4 linked regions of the Homo sapiens genome follow. The protein of the gene in region 4 purifies or fractionates together with the protein of the main gene of each other region. This does not show direct contact. Each region holds a gene or a part of one and is shown on either strand. Other genes may lie near its edges.

The links.
Region 1: the proteins of EFNB2 (region 4) and PKN3 purify together in Homo sapiens (affinity purification with mass spectrometry; 3 studies listed by BioGRID and IntAct, with this or other methods). This does not show direct contact.
Region 2: the proteins of EFNB2 (region 4) and PHLPP1 purify together in Homo sapiens (affinity purification with mass spectrometry; 3 studies listed by BioGRID and IntAct, with this or other methods). This does not show direct contact.
Region 3: the proteins of EFNB2 (region 4) and PI4K2B purify together in Homo sapiens (affinity purification with mass spectrometry; 3 studies listed by BioGRID and IntAct, with this or other methods). This does not show direct contact.

The regions. Positions count from the first base shown.
Region 1 is NC_000009.12:128,712,503-128,719,538, forward strand, and holds part of PKN3 (serine/threonine-protein kinase N3), read left to right. Parts: intron 1-549; coding exon 550-696; intron 697-775; coding exon 776-885; intron 886-996; coding exon 997-1,140; intron 1,141-1,543; coding exon 1,544-1,619; intron 1,620-1,694; coding exon 1,695-1,863; intron 1,864-2,059; coding exon 2,060-2,162; intron 2,163-2,295; coding exon 2,296-2,363; intron 2,364-2,669; coding exon 2,670-2,733; intron 2,734-2,866; coding exon 2,867-2,958; intron 2,959-4,244; coding exon 4,245-4,421; intron 4,422-5,822; coding exon 5,823-5,885; intron 5,886-6,046; coding exon 6,047-6,123; intron 6,124-7,036.
Region 2 is NC_000018.10:62,977,529-62,980,957, forward strand, and holds the end of PHLPP1 (PH domain leucine-rich repeat-containing protein phosphatase 1), read left to right. Parts: intron 1-733; coding exon 734-1,903; 3' UTR 1,904-2,905; downstream 2,906-3,429. UniProt on the Homo sapiens protein: Protein phosphatase involved in regulation of Akt and PKC signaling.
Region 3 is NC_000004.12:25,230,153-25,237,042, forward strand, and holds the start of PI4K2B (phosphatidylinositol 4-kinase type 2-beta), read left to right. Parts: upstream 1-3,880; 5' UTR 3,881-4,011; coding exon 4,012-4,279; intron 4,280-4,411; exon of another isoform or gene 4,412-4,590; intron 4,591-6,890. UniProt on the Homo sapiens protein: Together with PI4K2A and the type III PI4Ks (PIK4CA and PIK4CB) it contributes to the overall PI4-kinase activity of the cell. This contribution may be especially significant in plasma membrane, endosomal and Golgi compartments.
Region 4 is NC_000013.11:106,490,632-106,497,667, reverse strand, and holds part of EFNB2 (ephrin-B2 isoform 1 precursor), read left to right. Parts: intron 1-1,827; coding exon 1,828-1,920; intron 1,921-2,673; coding exon 2,674-2,787; intron 2,788-4,239; coding exon 4,240-4,628; 3' UTR 4,629-7,036. UniProt on the Homo sapiens protein: Cell surface transmembrane ligand for Eph receptors, a family of receptor tyrosine kinases which are crucial for migration, repulsion and adhesion during neuronal, vascular and epithelial development.

The sequences.
Region 1 (7,036 bases), on a different chromosome or scaffold from region 4:
GGAGCAGGTGGGTCCGGACAGGAAGCCAGGCTTCCTGCTCCCTGTCCCAAGCTCTTATCCTTGCCACAGTGCTCTCTAGGCCCCACTTCTAGGCAGCATCTCGTCATGTGCTGTGGCTCTGTGCAGCCTGGCTAAGGTCTGAGGTCTGAGCCTATGTCCCTGCCGCTCCAGCATGTGGAGGGGAGAGCCAGTTGCTCTGCCCTGGAAAGAGGTGGCTGCCACAGAGAAGTGTGCATTCTGGGACAACGTGGCTCCTCACCTGGGAGTGTCCAGGTCGGAGGCCTCCTAGGGTGTCATCGGGGTCCAAGGGTACCCTTTGGGGGGCTCATGGTGCTTGGGAGCTGCAGGACAGTCAGCAGGCTCCAGTCTAGGCACTCTAGGCCGCCACACTGAGTGAGGTTCCTCAGGTAACTGCCCTGGCCTCAGGTGGGTACGGTCTGGGTTCAGCCACCTCCTGGAGAGGGTGGCCTTCCTGGGGTCCCAGGACACCTTGGTGGTAGCAGTGGGAAGATGGCATCTGACAACGCCCCCCGCTCACTCTCCCCACAGGGACACTGCAGGTCCGCCTCCTGGGCTGTGAACAGTTGCTGACAGCCGTGCCTGGGCGCTCCCCAGCGGCCGCACTGGCCAGCAGCCCCTCCGAGGGCTGGCTTCGGACCAAGGCCAAGCACCAGCGTGGCCGAGGCGAGCTTGCCAGTGAGTAGGGAAGGAGCTTCAGGGGGAGCAGGAGACCCCTGCTTCAGGCCTGCCCTGAGTCCCGGCTCTGGCCCTGCAGGCGAGGTGCTGGCTGTGCTAAAGGTGGACAACCGTGTTGTGGGGCAGACGGGCTGGGGGCAGGTGGCCGAACAGTCCTGGGACCAGACCTTTGTCATCCCACTGGAGCGAGTAAGGCTGGCCTTTGTGTGGTCAGGGGTGACCTTGGGCTGCGGGGTGGAAGGCTGCCCAGGTCGGGGCTCGTTCTGCACCCCACCCTTCAGCCTGGCCTCCCCAATACAGGCCCGTGAGCTGGAGATTGGGGTACACTGGCGGGACTGGCGGCAGCTATGTGGCGTGGCCTTCCTGAGACTTGAGGACTTCCTGGACAATGCCTGTCACCAACTGTCCCTCAGCCTGGTACCGCAGGGACTGCTTTTTGCCCAGGTGCTCACCACCTCCGCCCTCTGACTTGGTGGGACCCTGGGGCGTCAGGGCCAGGAAGGCCTTCAAGACCGATGCACTGCGTGTAGGTGCAGAGACTGACGACCAGAGAGGAGGGCTCCAGGAATAAGGGCTCCTAGCCGCTCTCTCAGGGCTGCATCTGGAGGCCTGGGTCCTTGTCCTGACTGCCCTGCCTCAGGTGTGACCCTGGAAAAGTGCCTCTCCTCCCTGGGCCTCTGTTTCTCCACTAGTATCAATGAGGACATTGAATCTGTTTCTCTGGGTCTTTCTGGCTCTTGCATCTGTTGACCCTGGGGGCTTGGGCTGTAATCCCAGGGGCAGAGGAGGTGCCATGGCAGATGAGATGGGAGGCGACTGGTCCACAACCCTGCCCCTACCCCTGCAGGTGACCTTCTGCGATCCTGTCATTGAGAGGCGGCCCCGGCTGCAGAGGCAGGAACGCATCTTCTCTAAACGCAGAGGTGTGGAGGGAATGGGGGCTATGTGTGAGGGAGCAGGGCTGGGGTCCCGGGACTAAGCTCCCCCTTTTCTCCCAGGCCAGGACTTCCTGAGGGCTTCGCAGATGAACCTCGGCATGGCGGCCTGGGGGCGCCTCGTCATGAACCTGCTGCCCCCCTGCAGCTCCCCGAGCACAATCAGCCCCCCTAAAGGATGCCCTCGGACCCCAACAACACTGCGAGAGGCCTCTGACCCTGCCACTCCCAGGTGAGGAGCTCCCTTGCCCTAGACTGCATGCTCCTCTGTGGCGGCTTCCTGACTCCAGATCCAGGCGGTATCTGTCTGTCTGTCTGCATTGCTCAGCCCGCTAACCCTCTGTCCATCTCACTTTGGGTTGGTGTGTCCATCCTGCCAGCTCTTGCGTCTGCCTGTGCTGGGCACTGTGTCTACTTTCTCCCTACAGTAATTTCCTGCCCAAGAAGACCCCCTTGGGTGAAGAGATGACACCCCCACCCAAGCCCCCACGCCTCTACCTCCCCCAGGAGCCAACATCCGAGGAGACTCCGGTGAGGGGCTGGAGGGACTAGTGGCTCCTAGGGCCGGCTGGGGCTGGCAGGGCCACCCAGCTGTGGGGTGGCAGGCCTGAAGGGAAAGAGAGAAGGAAGCCCAGCCCTGCCCTGAGCTCCTCTATACTCACAGCGCACCAAACGTCCCCATATGGAGCCTAGGACTCGACGTGGGCCATCTCCACCAGCCTCCCCCACCAGGTACCCCATCCTGCGCACCTTCATGTTTGAGACGTTCGTCTGCTTGCTTGAACATTTGTGTATCCATTCATACATTACTCCCTGGCTCCCTGGCGGGTGCGCTGACTGGCTCTCGGGGTCTGATTTACTAAACCCACATTATTGAGCTCCAGCTCTATGCCGGCTTCTAGGAGTCCTTACTGCAGGGCTTTTTCGAGCCCATAGGTCGGGACAGCCCAGGACTGGGCATGGGAGGCTTGGAGTGGCTCTGGGTAGGGGCCCAGCCAGTGCCCTAGGGGACTTCATATACCCTCTCTTCCTTTGCAGGAAACCCCCTCGGCTTCAGGACTTCCGCTGCTTAGCTGTGCTGGGCCGGGGACACTTTGGGAAGGTAGTGGGCTGAAGAGGGTGGTATGGGACGGGATTGGGGGCCTCATCACATGAGCCGGGAGGACCTGATCTGTGGGGGCGGTAAAGGCTCCCTGGTCTGGCCCACCTGGAGCACAACCTCTCTCTGGCCCCAGGTCCTCCTGGTCCAGTTCAAGGGGACAGGGAAATACTACGCCATCAAAGCACTGAAGAAGCAGGAGGTGCTCAGCCGGGACGAGATAGAGAGGTGTGTGGGGGTGCCGCAGGGCACCCAGGATGGCTGGCCTGGGCTGTGGCATCCAGAGGGCAGTTGAAGGTTCCTGGGGCTTTGGAGAGGTGACCCCGTGGGGCCAGCCAGCCTGCATTCTCTTTTGGCACCTGCAGTTGTTAACTGTGTTTCCTTGGGCAGGTCCCCTCTTCTCTCTGTCAGTTTGCTCTACTGTAAAATGGGGGCATTGGTGGCTGTGCACGTTCAGAGCTCCTTGTGAGCCCCTGACATATAGAAACCATCACTCTATGGCCAGGCGTGGTAACTCATGCATGTAACCCCAGCACTTTGGGAGGCCAAGGCAGGCGGATCACTTGAGTCCAGGAGTTCAAGACCAATCTGAATCACATGGTGAAACCCCATCTATAAAAAATAGCCAGACATGGTGGCATGTGCCTTTAGTCCCAGCTACTTGGGAGGGTGAGGTGAGAGGATTGCTTAAGCCCAGGAGGTAGAGGTTATAGTTAGCAGAGATCTCCAGCCTGGGCAACAGAATGAGACCTCATCTAAAAAAACTAATTAAAAAAAAAAAAAGGAGGGGGAGGCTGGGCACAGTGGCTCATGCCTGTAATCCCAGCACTTCAGGAGGCCAAGGTGGGAGGATTGCTTGAGCCCAGGAGTTCGAGGCCAGCCTGGACAACATGGTGAAACCCGCCTCTACAAAAAATACAAAAATTAGCTGGGCGTGGTGGTGCACACCCAGCTACTCGTGAAGCTGTGGTGGGAGGATCACTTGAACCTCAGTGGCGGAGGCTGCAGTGAGCCGAGATCGCACCACATCACTCCAGCCTGGGCAAGAAAGTGAGACCCTGTCTCAAAAAAAAAAAAAAAAAAGGCTGGGCGCACTGGCTCACACTTGTAATCCCAGCATTCTGGAAGGCCGAAGCAGGTGGATAACTTGAGGCCAAGAGTTCGAGACCAGCCTGGGCAACACAGCGAAACCCTGCGTCTACTAAAAATACAAAAATTAGCTGGGCGTGGTGGCGCACTCCTATAATCCCAGCTACTCGGGAGGCTGAGGCACAAAAATCTCTTGAACCCGGGAGGCAGAGGTTGCAATGAGCTGAGATCACACCACAGCACTCCAGCCCAGGCGACAGAGCAAGACTGTGTCTCAAAAAAAAAAAAAAAATGAAAAGAAACCATCAGTCTACTTGCCTGGCACTTTGGCTGAGGGCCCAGTGAGCCAGGGGTGTTGTGCAGGGCACAGGGCACAGCCCAGGGAAAGTTTTCCTTCCCTCTAATACTCTTGCTCTCTCCTGTAGCCTGTACTGCGAGAAGCGGATCCTGGAGGCTGTGGGCTGCACAGGGCACCCTTTCCTGCTCTCCCTCCTTGCCTGCTTCCAGACCTCCAGCCATGCCTGCTTTGTGACTGAGTTTGTGCCTGGTGGTGACCTCATGATGCAGATCCACGAGGATGTCTTCCCCGAGCCCCAGGCCCGGTGGGTTCCATCCCTCCTGCCTGCCTCTTCCAGCAAACTTTGCCTGGTTCCCTACACCCACTCTCTACATACTGCTTTCTCCAAGTGCCCAACAGCAGGGGAGCAGGAGTCAGAGGCCTTGGTTTACATCCTGGCACCAACTGACAGCATTTGTGATCCTGGGTATCAGCTTATGAAGCTGTGCATTAGGTTTCTTTTTTTTTTTTTTTTTTTTTTTTTTGTGAGACAGAGTCTGGCTCTTATTGCCCAGGCTGGAGTGCAATGGCATGATCTCGGCTCACCACAACCTCCGCCTCCCTGGTTCAAGCCATTCTCCTGCCTCAGCCTCCTGAGTAGCTGGGATTACAGGCATGCACCACCACTCCTGTCTAATTTTGTATTTTTAGTAGAGACGAGGTTTCTCCATGTTGGTCAGGTTGGTCTCTAACTCCTGACCTCAAGTGATCCGCCCACCTCGGCCTTCCAAAGTGCTGAGATTACAGGCGTGAGCCACCACACCTGGTGAGTCTCAGATCTTTATTTGAAAAATAGGCATGATTGGCCGGGCACCTGTAATCCCAGCACTTTGGAGGCTGAGGCGGGTGGATCACCTGAGGTCAGGAGTTCGTGACCTGGCCAACATGGTAAAATCTTGTCTCTACTAAAAATACAAAAATTAGCTAGGCATGGTGGCACACGCCTGTAATCCTAGCTACTTGAGAGGCTAAGGCAGGAGAATCGCTTGAACCCAGGAGGCGGAGGTTGGAGTGAGCCGAGATCCCGCCACTTCGGTCTGGCGACAGAGTGAGACTCCATCTAAAAAAAAAAAAAAAAAGGCCGGGCACGTTGGTTCATGCCTGTAATCCCCACACTTTGGGAGGCTGAGGCGTGTGGATCATGAGGTCAAGAGATCAAGACCATCCTGGCCAACATGGTGAAACCCTATCTCTATAAAAACTAAAAAAAAAAAAAAAAAAAAAAAATTAGCTGGGCGTGGTGGCGCGTGCCTGTAGTCTCAGCTACTTGGGAGGCTGAGGCAGGAGAATTGCTTGAACCCAGGAGGTGGAGGTTGCAGTGAGCCGAGATCGCACCGCTGCACTGCAGCCTGGGTGACAGAGTGAGACTCCGTCTCAAAAAAAAAAAAAATAGGCATGATGAATATCCACTGCAGGGACCAACACTTGGTCCCTGGCACCATTTAAGGGCCCATGAAGGGTGAGCTGGAAATGCACGCAACCTTGGGGCGACCTTGGGACTATTGGAGCACCCCCACCCTCAGCATGATGCTTGTCCCAGTCTCACTCATCTCTGACTCTGGCCGGGACATCCGGGATCCCCCCGCTATGGCCATCCTGGTGCCTCCCTGCCCTGCCTCCCTGGTGTGTGTCTTGGGCCTGAGTTCTCCCATAACCACCCCTGCAGCTTCTACGTGGCTTGTGTTGTCCTGGGGCTGCAGTTCTTACACGAGAAGAAGATCATTTACAGGTGACTTTTGTCCCAGGGATGCACGGGGGTAGGGGTGGGGGTGGGGGTGGAGTGGGTAAGGACAGATGCTGCCTCCGCCTGCCTGGGCTGCTCCAGGGGCCGTTACTGTTCCCTGGGTCTAAGCCCCACTCAGTCCCTTTGATCTGCACCCTTGCCCTCAGGGACCTGAAGTTGGATAACCTTCTGCTGGATGCCCAGGGATTCCTGAAGATCGCAGACTTTGGACTCTGCAAGGAAGGTGGGGGCCGCCCATTGGGATCCATATCTCCAGCCTTGTTTACCCACCCTGGCCAATAGGATGATGGGCACATGGCATGTCCCAGGAAATCTCCTCACCTGCGGATGCCCTGGTTCCACCACCCCAGACCTCATTCCAGGGGACAGCTGGGCACACTGGCCCTTTCTTCCTAGTCCTAGAGGCTCGTAGCCCCAGCCTGCACCTGGCCCAAGGGAGAGCCTGTGGTCAGGGATGGGAGAGGAGACTGAGTTCTGCCTTCTGTTTTTTTTTTGGTTTGTTTTTTTTTTTGAGACGGAGTCTTGCTGTGCCGCCCAGGATGCAATGCAGTGGTGCAGTCTCGGCTCACTGCAGCCTCCACCTACTGGGTTCAAGCGATTCTCTTGCCTCAGCAGCCCAAGTAGCTGGGACTACAAGCGAGCACCACCACACCTGGCTAATTTTTGTATTTTTTTAGTAGAGACGGGGTTTCACTGTGTTAGCGAGGATGGTCTCGATCTCCTGACCTCATGATCCACCCACCTTGGCCGCCCAAAGTGCTGGGATTACAGGCGTGAGCCACTGCGCCCGGCTTCTTTTTTTTTTGAGATGGAGTCTTGCCCTGTTGCCCAGGCTGGAGTGCAATGGCGCAATCTCGGCTCACTGCAACCTCTGCCTCCAAGGTTCAAGAGATTCTCCTGCCTCAGCCTCCCGAGTACCTGCGATTACAGGCACATGCCACCACACCCAGCTTATTTTTTGTATTTTTAGTAGAGACGGGGTTTCACCATGTTGGCCAGGCTGGTCTCGAACTCCTGACCTCATGATCTGCCCACCTCGGCCTCCCAAAGTGCTGGGATTACAGGTGTGAGCCACCGCACCCAGCCGAGTTCTGCCTTCTGTGACCTTAGCCTGTGAGCTTGGCTCTGCATGCAGT
Region 2 (3,429 bases), on a different chromosome or scaffold from region 4:
GCCAGCAGATCTTGCCTTCTCCATTGGTCAACAGGAAATCAAGTTCAAGGAAGTTGTAAGAATTGGCATTTCTTCTTTAGCATCTGTTCTCCTGACATGAGCATTCTTACCCACCTAGTCAAACCAAGGTTTTCTCCACCGCTTAAGTACTTTCAAGTCCTCTCTGGACCTTTAGACACTACTGCCTCTTGTGATCATGGAGAGCAATGGAAGATTTAGGAGCATTGTCTTGATATATGCCTGCGTCATGTGTCTTTGCTCAGGACTGGCTTCTATCAGAAAGTCTCTTGCTACCTCAGAGTCTTCCTACACCCAGCCCGTCTGAGGGCCGATCCTTGATCACCATGTTCACCAAGGGAGGGAAGATGTAAACCCATGTTTACAGGAGGAGCTAGCCAGCTATGCTTGCTGTGTAAGGCTAGATGATGGCTTGCTTTAGATAAACAGCAGGACTTGTGACCTAGTGTGAATGGGGTCCCAGTAACACACATAACCGAAATCTTTTCCTTTTGTCCCTACTGCTCCTTACCTGCCCAGGCCTACTACCTGGGGTTTCTGATGACAGGTGCACATTAACTACTCACTACAGAGTGAGCCCTTCTTTCCTCTGTGGGCCACACAGCACTTCTCTGTGGTCCTACAGTCGAGACAGTCGAGGGACCCGCAGGGAACCTGCACAGTTGCCGCAGGTGCTCTGTATTAACTGTCTGTCTGCAAACCCTTGTTCTTCCAGGATGGCAAGGTGAACGGAGTGACTGAGTCCACGCGCATCCTGGGCTACACCTTCCTCCATCCCAGTGTGGTGCCTCGCCCCCACGTGCAGTCCGTGCTCCTGACTCCCCAGGATGAGTTCTTCATCCTAGGCAGTAAGGGGTTGTGGGACAGCCTGTCCGTCGAGGAGGCCGTGGAAGCCGTGCGCAACGTGCCCGATGCCCTGGCTGCTGCCAAGAAGCTGTGTACCCTGGCCCAGAGCTACGGCTGCCACGACAGCATCAGCGCTGTGGTGGTGCAGCTCAGTGTCACTGAGGACAGCTTCTGCTGCTGCGAGCTCAGCGCCGGTGGGGCTGTGCCACCACCCAGTCCTGGCATCTTTCCTCCCTCAGTGAACATGGTGATCAAGGATCGGCCCTCAGATGGGCTGGGCGTGCCGTCCTCCAGCAGCGGCATGGCTTCCGAGATTAGCAGTGAGCTCTCCACTTCTGAGATGAGCAGCGAGGTGGGGTCAACAGCCTCCGATGAGCCCCCGCCCGGAGCCCTAAGCGAGAACAGCCCTGCCTACCCCAGTGAGCAGCGCTGCATGCTCCACCCCATCTGTCTGTCCAACTCCTTCCAGCGCCAGCTATCCAGCGCCACGTTCTCTAGCGCCTTCTCCGACAACGGCCTTGACAGTGACGATGAGGAGCCCATCGAGGGCGTCTTCACCAACGGCAGCCGGGTGGAGGTGGAGGTGGACATCCACTGCAGCCGGGCCAAGGAGAAGGAGAAACAGCAGCACCTGCTTCAGGTGCCAGCAGAGGCCAGTGATGAGGGCATTGTCATCAGCGCCAACGAGGATGAGCCAGGTCTGCCCAGGAAGGCAGACTTCTCTGCCGTTGGGACCATTGGGCGCCGGAGGGCCAATGGCTCTGTTGCGCCCCAGGAAAGGAGCCACAATGTGATAGAGGTGGCTACAGACGCACCTCTTCGAAAGCCTGGAGGCTATTTTGCTGCCCCGGCTCAGCCGGATCCTGATGATCAGTTTATCATACCCCCGGAGCTGGAAGAGGAGGTCAAAGAAATCATGAAGCATCACCAGGAGCAACAGCAGCAGCAGCAGCCGCCACCACCCCCTCAGCTCCAGCCGCAGCTGCCGCGGCACTACCAGCTGGACCAGCTGCCAGATTATTACGACACGCCACTATGACCCAGCCGAGCTGTTTAACAAATAAACTAACCACAAAAGACTGAGTTGCAAGAGTCTCCCAGGCTCACATTAAACCAGGGGTTTTACTCCACATCCTTCCCCCAGACACTGTTCCCAACCTGTCATCGCAGCTAATCTGTAGGTTCTCTTTCTTTGGGTTATTTTTTTAAGTAATCACCACTTTCTTCTAGTGATGCTTTACCAATATGATTTACATTTGTTAACTTCTCCCCCTAACATATCAGATATGTAAAGACAAAGAACAAAAGGTTTAATATATTACAGAGAAACAGTTAATGATAATGTAATATTTTTTAAAATGGCTTTTTGTTGTTTGTTTGGAAGGCAGGGCAGGCTGCCGTTGCTAAATGATTTAATAATATTGTAATTCTGTATTTCTTTGGGGGGAAAAGGCTTTTGTTTTGTTTTGTTTTGTTTTGTTTTGTTTTTGTCTTGAAAATAATAGACATTTGTAGAATATGGAGACTAACTCCTAGGAGTTGCTTTACTCTGTCAGGTGACTTAAGTCACTGGGATTCACTAATTTTCTCTGAGAGAACAGCTGATTGAGAATTTCCATTGTAAATAGCTCAGTGTTGTATAGTGAGGCTTACGATGTTTTGTAGTCTTGGCGTAAGGACACAGCCCAAGTAACTGACGTTTCCCCTCCCCCTCCCCTCTGAGGAGCCTGCCTGCCTCACAACTCACCCTCACTTCACTGAATGAGGAGGCTGAGCAGCTGCAGTGTTTCTGTCCGGAGGAAATGGATCTTAGGCCACTGGACAAGAACCTGCACCCAAGGGCCCTGAACCCATTTTCCTCCCCTGTCCCAGCCTTCCCACTTTGACAGACACTTTTAACTGTGTTCCTTACTGCTGCCACAATCAGCATGGTTGTATAGTGCCCCATTAGGCCATTTACATACCCAGAGTTATACTCAAGCAGAATGCACAAATGGACATGTCATAATTTTTGTTACAATAAATATGAAATTTACAAGTATTTACAAGTATCTGCTTTTGTCTCAGCAGCCAGATGTTTCTTGGAGACAGTCACACTAGCTTGCGTTTAGAAAGAATGGATGGAATATTGGGGTTATCAGATATTTCTGATTTTTTTTTTAAGAGAAAAACATCCAGTAAGTTAACCTACATTGAATGAAATGTGAAATTAACCAAATGGTAAGCAGTATAATTAGCTGATCTTACAGCTTTTCTTTTCTTTTCTTTTCTTTTTTTTTTTTTTTTGAAATGGAGTCTCGCTCTGTCTCCCAGGCTGGAGTGCAGTGGTGTGTTCTCTGCCCACTGCAACCTCCGCCTCCCGGGTTCAAGTGATTCTCCTGCCTCAGCCTCTGAATAGCTGGCATTACAGGCACCCGCCACCATGCCCAGCCAATTTTTGTATTTTTAGTAAAGATGGGGTTTCACCATGTTGGCCAGGCTGGTCTCATACTCCTAACCTCAAGTGATCTGCCCACCTCAGCCTCCCAAAGTGCTAGGATTACAGGTGTGAGCCACTGTGCCAGG
Region 3 (6,890 bases), on a different chromosome or scaffold from region 4:
CTTTTCCCATGGAGTGCCACGGAAAGGTCATACTCTGCCGTTTTGTCTCTTAATGCATTTGCCTGGGAAGTTGCATCTCCCTGGCATCTGCATTCAATTAACACTTTAGTGCAATAGGTGTGGACCATCAGGAAATGGCGTCTCCCTGACCCTAGGTGCCAATGTATGACTTTTAGAGAGGCAATGTGATAACTGCTGAGCCATCACCCAACATTCCTGGTGGGTGGGAGAAGAGCCCTTTCCTGCCCTGCTCATGCTGTCTAATGGCCTGTGACAGCATGACTTTAGTAGGCTTTGGGAAATCAAGAGTTTTGAAGATTATTGGTAAAATAAAGACATTTGGTTGAAATTAGGTCAGACATTAGGTTTGCTAAATGCTTTAAGGTAATAAACTGCTTCTAAAAAAAAAAAGAATGACATTTCTCCAAATTTTGTGGAAAACATAAATCTACAGATTCAAGAAGTAAAGCAAAACCTAAGCAAGATATTTGTAAAGAAAATCATACCAAAAACATCATGGTCAAACTATTGAAAATCAAAGAACCAAAGAACCAGAGAAAATCTTAAAGGCAGCTAGAGAAAATGACATAGCACAAGTCGGGTGTGTAAGTGAAGGGTTATGATTCAAAAACAATGAAGGCAAGAGGACAATAGAATGACATATTTACAGTTGAACTTAGATGGGTAAGGATAGCAATATCAACCCAGAAGTCTGTATCCAGAGGACATAGCATTTGAAAATGATGGTAAAATAAAGACAATTTCTAATAAATTAAAACTTAAATTTATCACCAGTGTATTAGTCTGTTTTCATGCTGCAGATGAGGACATACCTGAGACTGGGCAATTTACAAAAGAAAGAGGTTTACTGGACTTACAATTTCACATGGCTGGGGAGGCCTTGCAATTATGGGGGAAGGCAAAGAGGAGAAAGTCACATCTAACGTGGATGGGAGCGGGCAAGGAGAGCTTGGGCAGGGAAACTCCTGTTTTTCAAACCATCAGATCTCATGAGACTCACTTACCATCATGAAAACAGTATTGGAAAGATCTGCCCCCATGACTCAATCACCTCCCACCTCCCACCTCCCACAACACGTGGGAATTGAAGATGAGATTTGGTGGAGACACAGCCAAGCCATATTAATCAGCAAATCTGCATTATAAAATTTGTTTTTAATTCTTCAGAGGAAAGGGAAATGATACTAGATAGAAACTCTGATCTACAAAAAGGAAGGAAGAACACCGGAAGTTGTAACTATGTGGGTAATTTCTCTAAAAAAGCAATTAAGGCAAAAATTATTCACTGTATTTAAATATTTAGGTCTAGTATACATGACAGCAATAACATAAACGATGGGGCATAAATGGAATGACACTAAGTTCTTACCTCTTATGTCAAATAGTACAATATTGGCTCTTAGTACACTGAGATAATTTAAGGATGAGTATTGAAAACCCTAGTGTAAGCACTAAAAATTAATGTAAAGAAGTATAACAGAGGCCAGGCGTGGTGGCTCATGCCTGTAATCCTAGCACTTTGGGAGGCTCAGGTGGGTGGATCACAAGGTCAGGAGATCAAGAACATCTTGGCCAACATGGTGAAACCTCGTCTCTACTAAAAATACAAAAATTAGCTGGGCATGGTGGCATGTGCCTGTAGTCCCAGTTACTCAGAAGGCTGAGGCAGGAGAATAGCTTGAACCCAGGAGACAGAGGTTGCAGTGAGCCAAGATTGCACCACTGCACTCCTACCTGGGCAGCAAGAGTGAAACTCCATCTCAAAAAAAGAAAAAAAATAAGTATAACAGAAAGTCAATGGTGGAATGAAAATGAAATAATCAGAATTATTGAATTAATCCAAACGAAGGCAGGAAAGGAGGAACAGAGGAACCGAAAAGGTTAAAGCAAATAAAACCCAAATTGCAAAATAATAGATCTAAATCCAACCACATCATTATTACATTAAATGTAAATGGACCCCAAACTCCAATTAAAAGGCATTTACAGGCCAGGTGCAGTACCTCACACCTGTAATCCCAGCACTTTGGGAGGCCGAGGCGGGTGGATCATCTGAGGTCAGGAGTTCGAGACCAGCCTGGCCAATGTGGTGAAACCCTATCTCTACTAAAAAATACAAAAATTAGCCGTGCATGGTGGCAGGCACCTGTAATTACAGCTATTCTTTCTTTAAAGCGGAGAAGGCATCAGGGAAGAGGGTTGTAGGTGGTGAAGCAAATGGTTACATTTTTGCTAGACTTTAGGTAGTGCCCAGTAACTCTATGCTATGCATAAGATAAGGTGAATATTCAAAGAAAATGGAGTAAAGGAAGTTAATTATACAGATATCTCAGGTGAAGGAATGATTGATCTTATCCTTGTTCTGCATCTGGGAAGATAAGCTTGTAACTGAATTTATCCATGTGAAATTTAACAGACTTTAGTTGTACCAGTTTGATTTAGGTTGCAGACTTAAAGTTATACAATTGACACGTCCTTGTTTTATGGAAGGATATACATCTTGAAAGGTTTAAGGGCCAGTAAAGAATTTACTATGATTAATTTGTTGAGGACAGTCATCCTGAGACTGAGATGCATAAGGCTTTTTTTTGCATTTTGAGGAGGGTCTGGCTAACATATAAAGTTTTAATACAACTATGGGAAGTAACAGCTATCCATTTGGGAAAAGCATTGTAGTGTTGAGTGACTTCAGTCTCCAGGCTTAACTCTCCCTTTGACATAACAAGTTGGGGGTGGGGGGTGGTTCTGAGATTTTTATTTTCCTTTACAGGGTCAAAGAGGAAATCATAAAGGAAATTAAAAACTATTTTCAGCTGAAGGAAAACAAAAGCACAGTAGCAGGCCAGGCAAGGTGGCTTATGCTTGTAATCCCAGAATTTTGGGATGCTGAAGCAGGACGACTGCTTGAGACCAGGAGCTCAAGACCAATCTGGGCAACAGTGAGATCCCATCTCTACAAAAAATTTAAATTTAAAAATTAACAGGATGTGGTCGTGCACACCTGCAGTTCCAGCTACTGTGTCTTCTACAGTTTAAAGCTGAGAAGATCCCTTGAGCTTAGGAGGTTGAGACTGCAGTGAGCTATGATTGTGTCACTGCACTCCAGCCTGGATAACAAAGTGAGACCCTGTCTCAAAAATAACAACCACCAAGAAAAAAAAAAAGGAGAATTCAGCTAAAGCAGTGCTTAGAGGGCAATTTATAGCCTTAAAATACTAGCATTGGAAAAGCAGAAAGATCCAGAATCAATCATCTTCTACTCTAAGCAACTAGAAAAAGAAGAGGAAATCAAAACTCAAGTGAGCAATAAAGAGCAAAATAAGGCAATGGACCAGAAAACAGAAAATCAATGGAACCAAAACATGACATTTTGAAAAGATTTAAAAATTGATAAACTTCTAGCTAGATTAGTCAGAAAAAGAAAACATACAAACTGCCACTATCAAGAATATCTGAACAAAGACAAGGTCCCTGCCCTCCTGGACGTCTACTGGAGGAAAGAAATGTCATACAATTAAATCTATAGTTACAGATTATGGTAAACTCTGAGAGAGAATTCTGTCAGGGAGAAGCCGCTTTTGGTTGCAGGAGGGCACCTCTTTGAAAATTACTCACCTTCCCGCCCTCCACTGGGAGTAAAGCGAGCTGTGCCCAGCTTCTCCCCGCGCTCACGGAAGCAGGTGGCGGCCCCACCCCACCTGACCCCTCAAAAGCCCCGCCCCCTGTTCACTCCCACGTGCCCCGCTGCCGCCGCCGCCGCCGCCACGACCCTTCTGCGCAGGCGCGGGGGTGGTGCCTGGCGGAGGCGCGAGGTGGGGCGCGGCCGGCGGCGAGGCGGGACAACCGCTGGGCGGGCGCCAAGCGTGCCCGTGCGCTGGTGAGGTGGCGTCCGTTCTACCCGGTCGCTCCCGTTCCGCGCCATGCAGAGCCCAGTCTCTGGCACCTGGCTGCTCTGATCTGGTCTCAGCGCGGAGGGAGCAGAGGGAGTCCATGGAGGATCCCTCCGAGCCCGACCGGTTGGCGTCCGCGGACGGCGGGAGCCCGGAGGAGGAGGAGGATGGGGAGCGGGAGCCGCTGCTACCGCGGATCGCCTGGGCCCACCCGCGGAGAGGCGCCCCAGGCAGCGCCGTGAGGCTGCTGGACGCTGCCGGGGAGGAGGGCGAGGCCGGCGACGAGGAGCTGCCCCTCCCGCCCGGGGACGTGGGGGTCTCCCGGAGTTCGTCCGCCGAGCTGGACCGGAGCCGCCCCGCGGTTTCAGGTGCGACCCGGCCCTGCCCCACTCCCCGCGCCCCTCCGGGCGGCTGCCCCTGTCGCCCGGCTCGGTCCTGTCTCCCGCGCGCGCTGGCCGAGGTGGACGGGCTTTCCCCGCTCGCTGGGCAGCAGCTCCCGAGCTCGGACCGGCGCCAGCCGCAGCCGCACCGCGGGCACCTAGCTTGCTCGCTCTTTCTCCGGGAGCTCCCTCTCCTAAGGCCAGTGGTTGTCATTAAACCGATTCTTTAGACCTCCCCGCAAAGTGAGTCAAAACTTCTAGAAACCGACACTGGGGAGAGGTTAACGCTGTAAAATGACGTAAGTCCTTGCTCAAGTTTGGACTTGACTTTTGAATTAAGAACCTTGAACTCTCAGGAAAGTTCCCGGAGTGGTGAATTTGCAAAGTGGATGACAGGAGAGAGATGGACAGCCAGAATATCCAGTTGCCACTGGGGCACGTTTCAAAACCTTTTTCTATTAAATGTTGTTATTATGAAGTTAGCCACAGGGGGCAAAAGCAGTTGAAAGTCTGTTCCTGCCCTCTTACAGTTTAGTTTCTCTTTCTTGATTTACTTCTAATACATAAGAAAACCAAAACGAAAAACCTCTTTTCGCTATTAAGCGGACTGATAACCTCAGGCGAAACAGGGCAGTTGAAATGATGTTGAAGGTTAAATTTAGGTATGCTGTGCAGGCCTGGATATTTATTAATAAAGTGAGTTTTTCTGGCGTGTTGAATGGAGTTAGACAAATGTGATGGAAATAGCAAGAGACTTGTAAGACTCTCAGCTAGAGGTGAGACAGACTTGTTTGTAAAAAGGCGATGGTACACCTCCCTGCTGGTTGTGAGGATGGATTAAATGAGATGTTGTGCACCCGGTTGGTTTATCGCTTCACACATGACAACTTAAAAACCACAGAAAATGGAAGTTTCTTTAACACTGCTTAGTTTTTTTTGGAATTGTTAGATTTTAAATGTACTGTTAGTGGTACACTAATGTGTCCTTTACAGTTTAAAGAATTTTGGATAGAATCGGTCACTCAAGTTCTAGCTAGAGGCTACATTCAGGCATATTCTAGAGTAAATAAATCAGAGAATCCCAAGGGGAGCAGTTTGTCTGATTGTTTAAGCTTTAACCAACGTCTGCTCCCGTTATAATGTTACCTGATGGATGCATTGACGTTTAACCAAACAACGTGAAGCTGAAACCAGATCACAAACGGGTCTGCATTTGCCTAGCTACATTGGCAATTTGGGTATATGTTACTTAGAATTTAGTCTGTAAAATAGCTAGCTTGCCTTTTTCTGTCCCTTACCTTGTGTAAGCTACCTTGTGTACCTGGGTTTTTAAAAGAGCCTAAAGCCTTCAAAATGCACTTGTTCTGTGAAAGTGAGGTGTTTTATAAACAAACAGTATTAAGGCTAGAAAAAAATCAAAGCGAGAGGTCAACGAGATGGCAGGCCTGTAATCCCATCCCAGCATTTTGGGAGGTCTAGGCAGGAGAATAGCTTGAGGCTGGAAGTTCGAGACCCACCTGGGCAACATAGCGAGATCCCCATCTCTATAAAAAATAAACAACAACAACAACAAAAATTCAAAGTGAGGATAGAGTATAGTGTTAGAATACAAATGGATTCTTAGAATTCCTACCTTTTTTAAAGGTAATATCTTACCTGTATCACAGTTTACAATTTGCTAAGATCTTTTTTAAAAAAATATTTTATTCTCCACTGCACTCCAGCCTGGTTCTGTCTTGAGACAGAGCAAGACTCTGTCTCAAAAATAAATAAATAAATAAATAAATAAATAAATAAATAAATAAATAAATAAATTTTATTCTCTGTTGGGTGCCATGGCTCATGCCTGTAATCCCAGCATTTTGGAAGGCCTAGGTGGGTGGATCATTTGAGGTCAGGAGTTTTCAGACCAGCCTGGCCAACATGGTGAAACCCTGCCTCTACTAAAAATAGAAAAATTAGCCAGGCATGGTGGCGGGCGCCTGCAATTCCAGCTACTTGGGAGGCTGAGGCAGGAGAATCGCTTCTGAACCCGAGAGGTGTAGGTTGCAGTGAGCAGAGATGGCTCCACTGCACTCCAGCCTGGGTGACAGAGTGAGACTTTGTCTCAAAAAAAAAATTAATTATTTTCACAACAGCACAGCAAGTTAGTTGTTATTCGCCATTATTCTCATTATGAGGATTCAGAATTAATAAACTGGTAATGACTGGTAGCTCAGGTCTTCAGAGGTAAATGGTTTGCCCGAAGTCAAATATCCAGGAAGTAATAAATCAGGAGGAAGCCTGGTTCTTTCTTCATCTTCTGCCCCTTTTCCGTTTTGCCATGGGTCCACAAGTGTTATAAAATAATTGTGTCTGTGGTTATTTTGGAGGTTTTTACCTTTAATAGGACTTTAAAATAGTTTCTGTGAAAACTGTTTAAAAAATTTTTAAAGACTAAAATGTTCATGATTGAGTAATTTAATACTTTTTAAGTTTAGTTATTTTTTAAATGACTCCATTAACTTCATTTGTCCTTTACCATCCGATTTCCATGAAACTACCTCACTAGTTCCAAGAAATTCTTGCCTTTAGATTAATATGAACATCATTTATGATG
Region 4 (7,036 bases):
ATATACCTAATGTAAATGACGAGTTAACAGGCGCAGCCCACCAACATGGCACACGTATACATATGTAACAAACCTGCACGTTGTGCACATGTACCCTAGAACTTAAAGTATAATAAAAAAAAATTTTAATAGCCCCATTAAATAATTAAAAAGATTTTTTTTAGATTCACAGAAGTGTACAAAATTTTTAGGTTTTTTTTTTTTTAAGCTGTCTGCTGAATAGTTTCTTAATGGTCTACAATGTTTGTATCTACAAACAGATACTGTCTGCTTCTTACTACCCTTCCAAGACAAGTATTATTATGGCAATTATTGCCCAGTTTCCCGGGAAAAATTTATCCACAGTTACAGAAGAATGAGATGCAATTGTGAGACTGTAAAGTTTAAGCAAGCACTCAGAGAAGCACAGTGATATGTATGCACAGAAGAGGCAGTCTTTGTTTTGAGGAAAACAGTGAAAGTAAAGTTAATTCAAGACCACAAAGACAAGTAAATAAGTGCCTTATTTTTGTAGTTAATATAATTTCAGTGGAATGCATATTTCTACCATAAATGCATATAGAACTTGTTTGCTGACCTACTGTTTGGAAAACAAACAATCCCATTAGAAGAATGTCTTTGGGATTTATTTTTACCAGAAAATCAATCCTTTTTTCAGTCCCTTGCAAAGTACAGTGTTACAAGCCAAGACTTTGATAATCAGGTAGAAAATGGATTTAAATTGCAGAAATGTATATGAAACACTTTTGTTCCTTGCCCCTTGAACTTTAGGGGAATGAAAATGTCTAGCACTCTCCACCTTCTTTTCTCTCCTGGAACTTGAACTGTAATTCAAAGCCTGTTTCTCATTAAAGTACCTGGCAGCCTATCTCTTTACAGCTTGAGTTACAAAGCTATTCAGAGACCTCGCTGGTCTAAAGAGACAGAACAAGGATGTGTTTAAATAGAGCATAGGCTGTTGAAAAAAAAAATGCTGAAAATGGTAAAATGATTCTGTCCTTCCTTCCACTCCTCACTGCTGAGGTGGAGAGGGAATTCAGTTGGTGAACACCAGCAAGTGGCTGGTAAAAGTCCCCACTTTCTCTCCAGGGCTGCCACAGGACCCAGAATGAGTGGTGGGCATGTGTGTGAACCCTCTATTCAGCCAGAGTTTTCCCGCAACAGGTAGTTTGGTTGAAGAGGTTGACTAAGGTTGACATTGGCAGTAATAACACGTATGTTCTTCTGATTTACAAAACGATGGAGGAAAAAGGGGAGATTTTGAAGACCTGATTTCTGGTATACTTCTTAAGCATGCATAAGGCTGAAAAAAGAAGACAAGGGTTGTGGGAGGCTCCTGGTCTAGTGTTTACAGAACTTGGATGCTTGACAAACAGAGCGTCAAGCTAATTGTTCTTGAAGCAGGAAATCTGCAGTGGAGGAAGCAGGTGTGGGGGGATGATTACCACGTTTGGAAATGGCTGCATTAACTATTTTGCTCTTCTGAGTTTGGCCCCAAAAGAGTCCATAGACTTTTTGAAGGATGCCATCCCTTTTATTTATAGACTAACATTAAATCAGTCATTTGTGAAGGAAGGAGAAAGTGCCTAAATAAATTTGGAGTCAGATAGCATACGTGCGGCAGTGTTTCCGATATCCATTTCTCTTTATTTCTTTTTCTTTTTCTTTTTGGCTTTCAGCATCCCCATACTTTCAGAAAACTTGTGACTAAGAGTGAATTCTTATTTTTCAAATTGTTTTCAGACATTTCATGTTCATGTAAACTTGGCTTATTGATTTCCTGATTTTTCTTTATTTTTTTGTTTTGTCCATTTTATTTTTAATCAGCTACATCAAATGGGTCTTTGGAGGGCCTGGATAACCAGGAGGGAGGGGTGTGCCAGACAAGAGCCATGAAGATCCTCATGAAAGTTGGACAAGGTAAAGACCATCTGCTGCTTCATGACGCCACTGTGACCTGGTGTAGCCCCCAGCTAGTATGGTGCTAATGTTGCCGATGCCCACCTTCATTCGCTCTTCTTTTTAGTTTTCAAAGCAAACCCTTCTGCACTTTGAGCCACTGACAGATTTCCTCAAGTCAATGTACTAAGCTTTTATTGGAGATCTAAGAGTTAAGATCAGCAAGGTAGAATGTCTATTGCCATAGATAGATAGATAGATAGATAGATAATAGATAGATAGATAGATAGATAGATATTTCTTTTTAAAAAGCAAAACACTTTGGTTCAAAATCAAAATATCCAGAATGAAAACTAAAAGCTTGTGCAGTTTTGCTCATTTCTGAATCTTGACTACAGAAGAGTTTTGTTCATTGTGACTTTTCCAATATAGATAACCTATTGTGCAGAAAGAAATAATTATTCTTCTAATTAAAAATTGGTATAGTAGTCAATCAACTTGCTCAGTTAAATTGAAATGTCATCTGCAATGCTTTGCCTGCCAAATGCAAGAATCCCTATAGTTTCCACAGATGGCCTCACGTTCTAAACCTCTGAAATAACTAGTATAACCATTTTGTTTTAAAAGAAAAATTATATTCTTGTATTTCACAGTACTTTGCATAAAGACTCTTATGTTCATTGCTATTCATGCCTGTTGAAATATATATGCAGCTCCTAAAGCTAGATATTGTCAGATGTCTGTGCCGTAATTAATCATTTGTTTTTCATATAGATGCAAGTTCTGCTGGATCAACCAGGAATAAAGATCCAACAAGACGTCCAGAACTAGAAGCTGGTACAAATGGAAGAAGTTCGACAACAAGTCCCTTTGTAAAACCAAATCCAGGTATAACAGCATGATCTGTGTGTATGGAGGTCTGTGGGTACCACATTCTTAGTAGTATCTTAAAAGGTAGGGCAGAGTCTAAAGACTTCTAACCAGTTAGGATTAGCTGGAAGTTACAGTGATCAGGAATCTTTGCTGTCAGTGAGTCATTATTAATTACACTCAATAAGAACAAAATAACTCATTCCAATGAAAGTCATATATTCAAAGGAGTAGAGTTCATGAGCTGTAAGTGCCAGTTATTAGAACTACTCTGTCAGGCCAAAGGTTTCATTGGCTGACATTTTATCAAGCTGGTTGTCAACTCCAGCTTAAAGCTGATGTTAATGTATATGTAATTAATGTGCTAATCCCTCATCTAATTATATCTAAGCCACAGAGGGTTTAATTGATCCTCTTCTAAATTTTAAATGGTAACATTTTTAAATATTGCATAATAGTATTTTTTCAGGTGGTTATCGTTATTTTGTTTCACATTTTCCATGTAAAAGAAAATATTAAACAGGTCCCTGACAAAAGTGTAGAATACCAGATAAAATTGTCCGTCGTTGACCTTCGTTTTCTTAACAGTCTTGGAACAAATAGTTCTGTATTTGTTACCATGCTAATGAAGGTTTTATAGAGTAGCTGTTGAGCAGACATCAGCAGTTTTGTATTAGGATTGTTGTGTGCTTGCTTGGTCGTTGTGCAAATTTATCGTCTGCAGCAATATTCCATCCCTTTCCAAGAGTCAAGGAGGGAAGTTGTTATTTCTAACTTTCAATGACAAGATGTGTCAAATTCTTGTGACAAACTGATAAATGGATAATATAATGATGCCAGGCAGTTTTTTAGTGCTTAACATTTGGGCTGGCAGTCTGTTCGGTGTGAGAGTTTCTGCTGCCTTCCAAATATATTTTAAGTGTAAATCAAATAATACAGACGAGTTACGAGCTGAACATTTTCCCAGGCCCCCTCACTCCTTCCGCGTTCCCGAGCTGTTCTGTTCTGCCAGGAGGCAGGGCTCTTCTTTAGAAGGCAGGCCCTTTGAAGGTTTGCATGAAACTCCCTTTCTCAAAGGAGGCGGAAGAGCAATACCACATAAACGCTCACCGCTGACCTGGAGAATTGGCCACTTCCCTTTTTCTTCCCTGCCGCTGCCCCAGGCTGGCTGACACGGGTTAGAAGATGAAGCAAGATCAAGGGCTGGCTGTCACCGACAGTCTGTGCTCTTGCTGGATAATGATACAAAGGAAACCCTGTGGCTTGGGAGGGTAGGGAAGTCCCTCCTAGAGATACCTCTCATTTCCTTTTGCGTTGAGCTCTTAGACGAGGTATTGGCGAGGCAAAGTCCAGCTTCTAGTTAGTAATAAGCCTGGCTTATTTTTCACATTTTTAAGGGTCATAAAAGCAGTCCGTCTGCACTGGGACAGCAGTAACTATCTCTGACCTTTTCTGTCTCCGCGTCTGCAGGTTCTAGCACAGACGGCAACAGCGCCGGACATTCGGGGAACAACATCCTCGGTTCCGAAGTGGCCTTATTTGCAGGGATTGCTTCAGGATGCATCATCTTCATCGTCATCATCATCACGCTGGTGGTCCTCTTGCTGAAGTACCGGAGGAGACACAGGAAGCACTCGCCGCAGCACACGACCACGCTGTCGCTCAGCACACTGGCCACACCCAAGCGCAGCGGCAACAACAACGGCTCAGAGCCCAGTGACATTATCATCCCGCTAAGGACTGCGGACAGCGTCTTCTGCCCTCACTACGAGAAGGTCAGCGGGGACTACGGGCACCCGGTGTACATCGTCCAGGAGATGCCCCCGCAGAGCCCGGCGAACATTTACTACAAGGTCTGAGAGGGACCCTGGTGGTACCTGTGCTTTCCCAGAGGACACCTAATGTCCCGATGCCTCCCTTGAGGGTTTGAGAGCCCGCGTGCTGGAGAATTGACTGAAGCACAGCACCGGGGGAGAGGGACACTCCTCCTCGGAAGAGCCCGTCGCGCTGGACAGCTTACCTAGTCTTGTAGCATTCGGCCTTGGTGAACACACACGCTCCCTGGAAGCTGGAAGACTGTGCAGAAGACGCCCATTCGGACTGCTGTGCCGCGTCCCACGTCTCCTCCTCGAAGCCATGTGCTGCGGTCACTCAGGCCTCTGCAGAAGCCAAGGGAAGACAGTGGTTTGTGGACGAGAGGGCTGTGAGCATCCTGGCAGGTGCCCCAGGATGCCACGCCTGGAAGGGCCGGCTTCTGCCTGGGGTGCATTTCCCCCGCAGTGCATACCGGACTTGTCACACGGACCTCGGGCTAGTTAAGGTGTGCAAAGATCTCTAGAGTTTAGTCCTTACTGTCTCACTCGTTCTGTTACCCAGGGCTCTGCAGCACCTCACCTGAGACCTCCACTCCACATCTGCATCACTCATGGAACACTCATGTCTGGAGTCCCCTCCTCCAGCCGCTGGCAACAACAGCTTCAGTCCATGGGTAATCCGTTCATAGAAATTGTGTTTGCTAACAAGGTGCCCTTTAGCCAGATGCTAGGCTGTCTGCGAAGAAGGCTAGGAGTTCATAGAAGGGAGTGGGGCTGGGGAAAGGGCTGGCTGCAATTGCAGCTCACTGCTGCTGCCTCTGAAACAGAAAGTTGGAAAGGAAAAAAGAAAAAAGCAATTAGGTAGCACAGCACTTTGGTTTTGCTGAGATCGAAGAGGCCAGTAGGAGACACGACAGCACACACAGTGGATTCCAGTGCATGGGGAGGCACTCGCTGTTATCAAATAGCGATGTGCAGGAAGAAAAGCCCCTCTTCATTCCGGGGAACAAAGACGGGTATTGTTGGGAAAGGAACAGGCTTGGAGGGAAGGGAGAAAGTAGGCCGCTGATGATATATTCGGGCAGGACTGTTGTGGTACTGGCAATAAGATACACAGCTCCGAGCTGTAGGAGAGTCGGTCTGCTTTGGATGATTTTTTAAGCAGACTCAGCTGCTATACTTATCACATTTTATTAAACACAGGGAAAGCATTTAGGAGAATAGCAGAGAGCCAAATCTGACCTAAAAGTTGAAAAGCCAAAGGTCAAACAGGCTGTAATTCCATCATCATCGTTGTTATTAAAGAATCCTTATCTATAAAAGGTAGGTCAGATCCCCCTCCCCCCAGGTTCCTCCTTCCCCTCCCGATTGAGCCTTACGACACTTTGGTTTATGCGGTGCTGTCCGGGTGCCAGGGCTGCAGGGTCGGTACTGATGGAGGCTGCAGCGCCCGGTGCTCTGTGTCAAGGTGAAGCACATACGGCAGACCTCTTAGAGTCCTTAAGACGGAAGTAAATTATGATGTCCAGGGGGAGAAGGAAGATAGGACGTATTTATAATAGGTATATAGAACACAAGGGATATAAAATGAAAGATTTTTACTAATATATATTTTAAGGTTGCACACAGTACACACCAGAAGATGTGAAATTCATTTGTGGCAATTAAGTGGTCCCAATGCTCAGCGCTTAAAAAAACAAATTGGACAGCTACTTCTGGGAAAAACAACATCATTCCAAAAAGAACAATAATGAGAGCAAATGCAAAAATAACCAAGTCCTCCGAAGGCATCTCACGGAACCGTAGACTAGGAAGTACGAGCCCCACAGAGCAGGAAGCCGATGTGACTGCATCATATATTTAACAATGACAAGATGTTCCGGCGTTTATTTCTGCGTTGGGTTTTCCCTTGCCTTATGGGCTGAAGTGTTCTCTAGAATCCAGCAGGTCACACTGGGGGCTTCAGGTGACGATTTAGCTGTGGCTCCCTCCTCCTGTCCTCCCCCGCACCCCCTCCCTTCTGGGAAACAAGAAGAGTAAACAGGAAACCTACTTTTTATGTGCTATGCAAAATAGACATCTTTAACATAGTCCTGTTACTATGGTAACACTTTGCTTTCTGAATTGGAAGGGAAAAAAAATGTAGCGACAGCATTTTAAGGTTCTCAGACCTCCAGTGAGTACCTGCAAAAATGAGTTGTCACAGAAATTATGATCCTCTATTTCCTGAACCTGGAAATGATGTTGGTCCAAAGTGCGTGTGTGTATGTGTGAGTGGGTGCGTGGTATACATGTGTACATATATGTATAATATATATCTACAATATATATTATATATATCTATATCATATTTCTGTGGAGGGTTGCCATGGTAACCAGCCACAGTACATATGTAATTCTTTCCATCACCCCAACCTCTCCTTTCTGTGCATTCATGCAAGAGTTTCTTGTAA